2 linked regions of the Homo sapiens genome follow. The protein of the gene in region 1 purifies or fractionates together with the protein of each later gene. This does not show direct contact. Each region holds a gene or a part of one and is shown on either strand. Other genes may lie near its edges.

The links.
Region 2: the proteins of PEG10 (region 1) and IQCB1 purify together in Homo sapiens (affinity purification with mass spectrometry; 3 studies listed by BioGRID and IntAct, with this or other methods). This does not show direct contact.

Annotation. Positions count from the first base shown.
Region 1 is NC_000007.14:94,654,403-94,658,321, reverse strand, and holds the start of PEG10 (retrotransposon-derived protein PEG10), read right to left. Parts: upstream 1,953-3,919; 5' UTR 1,736-1,952; coding exon 1,731-1,735; intron 1-1,730. Other genes in the region: SGCE (epsilon-sarcoglycan isoform 5 precursor), read left to right, coding at 2,224-2,332.
Region 2 is NC_000003.12:121,828,214-121,832,132, reverse strand, and holds part of IQCB1 (IQ calmodulin-binding motif-containing protein 1), read left to right. Parts: intron 1-3,160; 5' UTR 3,161-3,172; coding exon 3,173-3,272; intron 3,273-3,500; coding exon 3,501-3,663; intron 3,664-3,919. UniProt on the Homo sapiens protein: Involved in ciliogenesis. The function in an early step in cilia formation depends on its association with CEP290/NPHP6.

The sequences.
Region 1 (3,919 bases):
CTGGGCAGTTCACCTCAGAGGAGGCGGGCCCAGGAGAGGTGGGGTCTGGGCAGTTCACCTCAGAGGAGGCGGGCCCAGGAGAGGCGGGGCCTGGGCAGTTCACCTCAGAGGAGGCGGGCCCAGGAGAGGTGGGGCCTGGGCAGTTCACCTCAGAGGGGGCGGCCCCGGGAGAGGCGGGGCCTGGACAGTTCACCTCAGAGTAGGTGGGCCCGGGAGAGGCAGGGCCTGGGCAGCTCACCACAGAAAAGGCGGGCCTGGAAGAGGCGGGGCCTGAGCAGCTCACCTCAGAATGAGGTGGCCAGAGAGAGGTGGGGCCTGGGCAGGCAGGCGCTAAGGAGCTGGGAGGAGGGGCCTGAGGAGGCCGCATCTAGAAGGCGCGCTCTGGGAAGGCGCGCTGCAGGGGAGGCGCGCTCTGAGGAGGCGCTGTAGGAGGAGGCGCTAAGCACCGCAGAGAAGGCACACTAGGATGGGCGGGGCAGGCCTGAGACTGGCTGCTACAGGGCTGCAGAGTATCTGCACACCCCCCCCCCCCGCCGCCAGAATCCCCCCTCCCAAACCCCTCCCACCAGTCACCAAAGCCAGATTCATTTCATGCAGCAAGAGCAATCCACAGATCCAATTCCCCCGCCATACTCAGCAAACCCACAGTTTCCACAAACTGTTGCTGGACGCTGATTCGCGCCACCACAACTACACCGCCACTTCAATCAAGCACAAGTAGGCAGGCAGCCTGCTCTGCCATCACCAAAAGATTCCCATTTCCACTCCAATCAGTGCCCCTCCACTCCACTGCTATAGCGGGAATGGTGTGGGCAGAATGTTAAACACTAATTTTTGCCCGGGGCTCCATTTTGTCTACCAGCACCATCATGCGAGAACCGTCCTGCAGAAAAATAGAGTGGGAGCCATTCCAAAAGGTGAAAGGGTGGGGTCCTGCTCCAAGAAAACAGAGGAATTGTACTCCGCAGCTCATGTCCCACTACGGCTGCTTTATTTGTAGCGCAAACGGTCTGCAGCTCCTGTACCTCTGCAGCTCTTACCACTTTGTAGTGCATCTTAGGTGTGAATTGTTCCGCAGCTCATGTACCTCTGCAGTTCATGTGCCTCGCAGCGCAATGAAGCGCTGTTGTCGGGCTGGCTAATCGCATCGTTTTTGTAGCGTTTTTTGTAGTGCTACTCTTCTGCAGCTCAGATTTTGCAGCGCATGTAAAGCGCAATTCAGTTTTCTGTCTGCAGCTCCTATATCGCTGCTCCTCGTTCTGGATTGTAGCGCCACTGAAGCGCCCATCCGTCAGTTTGTGGCACATAAAGCGCCCATCAGTTTATAGCGCAATGAAGCGCCAGTTGTAGCTCCCATCAGTTTGTCGCCCGCGTGAAGCGTGCTTGTAGCGCATCTGAAGCGCCAGTTTGTAGCGCATTTGAAGCGCTTATCTGTTTGTAAAGCATGGCACTTGGTAGCGCATTTGAAGAGCAAATTGCAAATCGATCTATAGCTCCTGACCGTCTGCAGCTCATCACTGTCCGCAGCTCATCTCTGTCTACAGCCCGTATCTGGACTTGGTCCTGGAAACCCAAGCCTTTAAGGCTTGGTTTCCCCATTTGTTTTGGGGTACAGCCAGTGAAGGCGTGACAAGTTTTGCGTGGAGACATTCTGGGGTGCTACTCCATCTCCCGCAGCTCCCGATAAGCACGGGGAATGAACGTGATCTTTAAAAAAAAAACGTCCTCACCGCATACTCACCACGCGAGGACTCCTCTGCGAAGACAGGAAGGATGGGGTCCCACACCTGAGCCAGGCGCGGTCTCCACTGGGTGCTCCGCAGCCCGGAGTGGCTCCGGACGACAGCCCGCTCAGCGGACCTTTCGCCAGGCTCGGTGGACCTTCTCCGCTGTTCTCCTCAGGGCGCAGTCAGGTTTCTTCGACACACACCAACCGAAGTTGAAGCGCGTGTACCAGGAGCGCAGACTGTGAGCCTTATATAGGTTGCACCGAGGAGGGGGGCGCCAAATCCCAGCGTGCTCCGCGGGCTAGGGGGTGGAGGGGGGTGCGGGGATGGGGGATGGGGGTGGGGGCGGTGGCCACGCTGCAGTGGCCCGCCGCTAGAGGGAGTACGGGATTACCGAGGGGGTGCGGGATGCTGATGCTGAACTGGCCAAGCTGGGAGGGAAGAAGAAAGGGAGGGGAGGGGAGAATCGAGGACGGACGGCCTAGCCAGGCCAAGAATGCAATTGCCCCGGTGGTGGGAGCTGGGAGACCCCTGTGCTTGGACGGGACAGGGTCGGGGGACACGCAGGATGAGCCCCGCGACCACTGGCACATTCTTGCTGACAGGTTAGTGGCCTGCGCGCGACGTGGAGGTCCCGGGGCCAACAGGCCGCCGCCTCCCCCTCCCCCGCTCGGGTTCCGGGCGCCTGAGCGCGCCCTTTGGGCACCAGCCTCTCTTTCTGTCCCGGACCCCACCGTACCCCTCCTTCAGTACACCCTGTACCCCATTTCCCCGGCCCAGCTTCTCTCTCCCCAGGCTTGACCCCTGGCCTTTTTTTCCTCTCCGCGCCCCCGCGGGCCCCTCCCTGCTCTGCGGGCGCAGAAATTCCATCTCCAATTCCTGTTCCCAACATCCCCCTCCCCGCCCAGCCCCAGGGTAGTCCTCTCCCGATCCCTGTAGCAAAGAGCTGGGGGTCGTTGCCTGTTTTTCTGGGGGGCCCGTTTCCCCGCGATTGGGCTCTGCGACCGCGATGCGAGCCAAAGGAAATGGGTGTCAAGCTGCGTCCCCGCTACACAAACACATCTTTTTTCCTTTTCTTGATAGTGGTAGAGAACACAAAAATGTGACATTTAAAACACCGAATTTCCCCCTCTTGCTAAGTGCATTTCTCGGTGACGGAAATCTCGGTTTTCTTCGGTTTTACGGAGCAGGGAAGCGGAATCATGAAATGCTGGGAGCTAAACAGGGCGTTCAGGTCAGGGTTAACCCCGGCTGGAGGCCAGAGATGCTGCCGTACCGAGTGCGCTATTTCCAGAAACCAAAACCAATTTAAAACAGCTGTGGATGCTTCCAGTGTGTTTGGCGGGCTTTGAAGGCTCCCAGCTACCGACTTTTGGTGGCGATTACGAGGTTTACACAGAGACCTTGCTTCCCTTGCAACGTTACATTTTCCTAAATCTTGTAGGGTGAATGAATGCGTTTAGTCACGGCAACCGCACGTTTAATCCTTTCCAGCGGGTTGCCGAGATTCGGCCACAAATATTTGCGTGCATTTGTACTATGAACATATATATTTTATGTCAGGGAAAATTGCAGTGGCTGATAAGACGCTAAAATTCTGATGAGGAAGGATGCTAAATAAAACCTTAACGCGGATTCCCATCTAAGCGCCTCAGTGTCAGGTGCTTGGGAAACTGACAATCTGTTGATGATCTTAGTAAAACAAGTTTAAGTTAAAAGGGAAAACCAAATTGTCTACAGCTGAGTTAGGTTTCTGAAACACAGATGAAACGCTTTCATATTTGAAGAGCAAAATTGAGCACATTTTAGTAACATTGCTACGGATTATTTTATACTTGGAATATCAATAAGAATTTGACTTATTGTCATAACAACGTTGCAGACACCGCACTTTAAAAGAGAGCCTTTCTAGGAATAAACAAAACTGTAGCCCATTTACTGAGATTTTACTTTTTATTAGAAAATGCCCACTATCCGGAATATGAATGAATGAAATGCAGCTTTTTAACAAAGACATTTCCCTAGGAAGTTGGGTAAACACAATTATACTTTTTAGAAGTGCCTTTTAATTTAATCTTTAGGATGTTCACCCTCTTCTGCAAGATAGAATAATTCCAGGATTTCTTATGCTTGGTAGAGTACTGTTCTGGTGACCGCTGTCAAATTCTTACCAGTTTTGTTTGTTTGTTTAA
Region 2 (3,919 bases), on another chromosome or scaffold:
ACACGAAATGTGCCTGACATCCCTAATAATCAAAGAAATACAAATTAAAACACAATCATACCAATTTTCATCTAACAGATTGGCAAAAATGTAAAGGATCATGTGTATATTCATTGCAGTGTTGCTTGTAATAGCATACAGCTTGAGTGACCTCCAGTAGAGGTGATGTTTAAATATATTTTGCTGCATTCTTAAAAGGAAATGTAGCATAATGCAGCCATTTGGAGAGAATGAGATAACTATATGCACTCTCTTTGAAAGTTTTGTGACTACTATGTGCCGGGAGTTGCACTGGGCTTTCTTTAAGGTATTTTCAGCAAACCTGTCTTTTAATGATTTATATTGTACCTAATAAGAGATATATGAATGGAAAAACAGTTTTTGCTCTCACATCATGACAATCAACACAAAAGACTTCTGTGACCAAATGTGTGGAGTTTTCTTCCACCAACAAGCAAGCAATCAATTCTGCAGCGGACACCAGCTGGGTATCATCTAATTCAATTCTGACACTGTCTACTTGGAGATAGGGTCAGATCCCTTAGGTTTAGGGCTTAGTCCTGCAAGAGGGACCCCCATTTCTGATGCCAATCCAAGCCCTAAGTTGTTTTACCTGTGCTTCTGACTGACCAGCTACACATGAGGAATCCTATTAATACACACCTTGGGGTGTATTAATTTGCTAGAGGAGCTAACAAAACTGAGGGAAACATGTTTTCCAGTTTATTATAAAGATATTACAGAGACCCTGGGCAACATGGAGAAACCCTGTCTCTACTAAAAATACAAAAAATTAGCCGAGCGTCATGGCTTGCAAGTGTAGTCCCAGCTACTTGGGAGGCTGAGGTGGGAGAATCACCTGAACCTGAGAAGTCTAGGCTGCAGTGAGCCATAATTGTACCATTGTCCTCCAGCCTGGGCAACAGGAGTGAGATCCTGTCTCCAAAAAAAAATACTAGGATACAAATGAAGAGATGCATACTGTGAAGTATGGGAAGGGGCACAGAGCTTCCATGTCCTCCCTGCCTGTGATATCCAGGAAATTCCTCCAGGAACTTCCACATGTTCAGCTATCCAGTAGCTCTTTGTACCCCATCCTCTTGAGCCTTTTATGGAGATTTCAATGGATAGGCATGACTGAAGCATGGACAATCATTTTGGAAATGTGATTGGACAAAAAAGATATGATCTGATACTAACAGACTGAGTGGGGAAACCCAGCAAGGCCTGTCTGCTCAGATTCTTCTTGGCTTCTCTGTTCAGCATTCCTTCCAGGATATAGGGCAAGACCCATTCTGAAACAGGGGTCTTATGACCTACAGCTAGACAAGATAGGTCAGAGAAAGGCAGGGATGATTAGAGTTCTGCTTTGGAGAGAAGGAGCAGGTGAAAGGAGGAGAGGAGGAAGTCAGAAATAGATTCTGTTTTCTGAGGCCTAAAGCACCCTAACATAACAAGACTGTAACAAAGGCTATGGGAGTTATGAGCCAGAAACTGTGGACAAAAACATATATATGTATATGTATATATGTATGTATGGAAATGATCACACGCTCTATCTACTTCATAGCCCTGTTGTGAGGATTACACAAGACAGTGTATAGTATATTAACATAGTGCTTAGCTTATATTAAACAGTTGATACATGTTAGCTTTACTATAAATAAGGAAATACGCTTTTATTATATAAGGATATCTTTGAGCTTCAAATGCTTTAAAACTTTTTTTTTTTAGAGACAGGGTCTTGCTTTGTTGACCAGGCTAGTCTTGAACACCAATTCTCAAGCGATTCTTCAGCCTTAAACTTTTTTTACATAGAGAAAGTTTTAGCAACAAATTAGGATGTGGACCTTGTTTTTTAATGTTAGGAGAATTGATTTTATTCAATATACTATTTACTTATTTATTAATTATTATTATTATTATTTTGAGACAGAGTCTAGCTCTGTCACTCAGGCTGGAGTGCAGTGATGTGATCTCAGGTCACTCAACCTCCACCTCCTAGGTTCAAGCTATTCTGCCTCAGCCTCCTGAGTAACTGGGATTACAGGCACGCGCCACCATGCCCAGCTGATTTTTTGTATTCTTAGTAGAAATGGGGTTTCACCATGTTGGCCAGGCTGGTCTTGAACTCCTGACCGCAAGTGATTCACCCACCTTGGCCTCCCAAAGTGCTGGGATTATAGGTGTGAGCCACTGCCCCTGGCCTTATTCACTATACTATTTAGAAGCAATCTTTGATTATCTTATATTTATGTAACATTTCTGAGCATTAGTGTGTTGAAGGTCAGTGCTTCACTAGGAGGGCTCACAGGACTCAGAATATAGTGTACTTACAGCTATGATTTATTACAGTGAAGGGAAATAAAGCAAAATCAGCAAAGGGAAAAAGCATATTGGGGGAAATCAGGTACAAACTTCTGAGTTCTCTCCCAGTGGAGTTACGTAGGATATGCTTAATTCCTCCAGCAACCAGCTATGACAACATGTTTGAAGTGTTGTCTACCAAGGAAGCTCAACTAGACACTCAGTGATCAGAATTTTTATTGGAGGATGGCCACATAGGCACCCTCTGTATAGGTACTCTCGACTGGCATGTACCAGAATTCTAAGACTCCTGGAAGGAAGGCGGGTATTCAGCATGAACCACATTGTTTTTCATAAACAGTTTTAGGCACAGGGAGCCACTCTTACCAGAGAATGGCAGAAACCCTCCTGAAATCTAAGTTCTAGATGCCAGTCAAAGGCCAACCTTGTAAGCACACCTTTGAAAGTATAGTAGTCTTAGGCCTGTCATGTTAGCTCTTTTTTGCAGTTCTTCTTGTGTGATTAAAGGAAGTTAATTCCTATCCTAGAATTATTGTGCAGATTAGAGAGAGAATGTGAAGCTCCTATCACAGTTCCTGACTCTTAGTGAGTGCACAATAAACAATACCTGCTATAGCTGTTACATGTGAGGTATAGGAATCTTGAGCTCTTTTACACTGGTTAGAAAAACCAGTTTTCTATAAGGAAGAAATGAAAAAATCTACATTCTGCCTCTCAAACAAGGCAAGAAAAGCTGTTTTTATTTATATTGAAATTATATTTCAAACATTATTTAGGTAGTGAACATTTCCTGGCTTTTTGACCTTTATTCTCTGATTCTGTTAAAATATAGGTAATAAGAGAAATGAAGCCAACAGGTACAGACCCAAGGATCTTATCTATAGCTGCTGAAGTTGCAAAAAGCCCTGAGCAGAATGTCCCTGTTATACTGTTGAAGTTAAAAGGTAAGAAAATCTTTTTGTGATTAGATAGCATTTTAAGTGAAAAATGGTTCCATCGTTGGTACAATTTTAACATTTCTTTTAAATTTGTTCAGAGAGGTCTTAACACTATAATAGAACAGTAATTTTTCCTTCTAATATATTTTTAGTGATTATTCAACATATAAAAATACAAATAGCTCCTGGATGTATTAAGCAAAAATAAATATATCTTATTTCCTTTTGCCTTAGAAATAATAAACATCACACCTTTAGGAAGCTCAGAGTTGAAGAAAATCAAACAAGATATATATTGTTATGATCTCATTCAATATTGCCTCTTGGTCCTCAGTCAAGATTATTCTCGAATCCAGGGTGGTTGGACTACAATTTCCCAGCTTACACAGATATTAAGGTAAAATAAAGCAGTAAGTCAGCTGTTCTTGAGGGATGTAGTAGTTGATTCTGATTTTCAACATTTGCTTTTTATTTATCTGCCTAACAAGCATTGGCAACCTCCTGTTGTAGGTTTTGGTTGTACTTTTCCTTCATATTATATGTTATTATTCATAATTTTACTTCAGATTATTTGACTGTCTAAAATTTTCCTCCACAAGCTTAATGAAGATGGTGATCATTTTTTTTCTCACCACTGAATTCCAAGTGCCTAA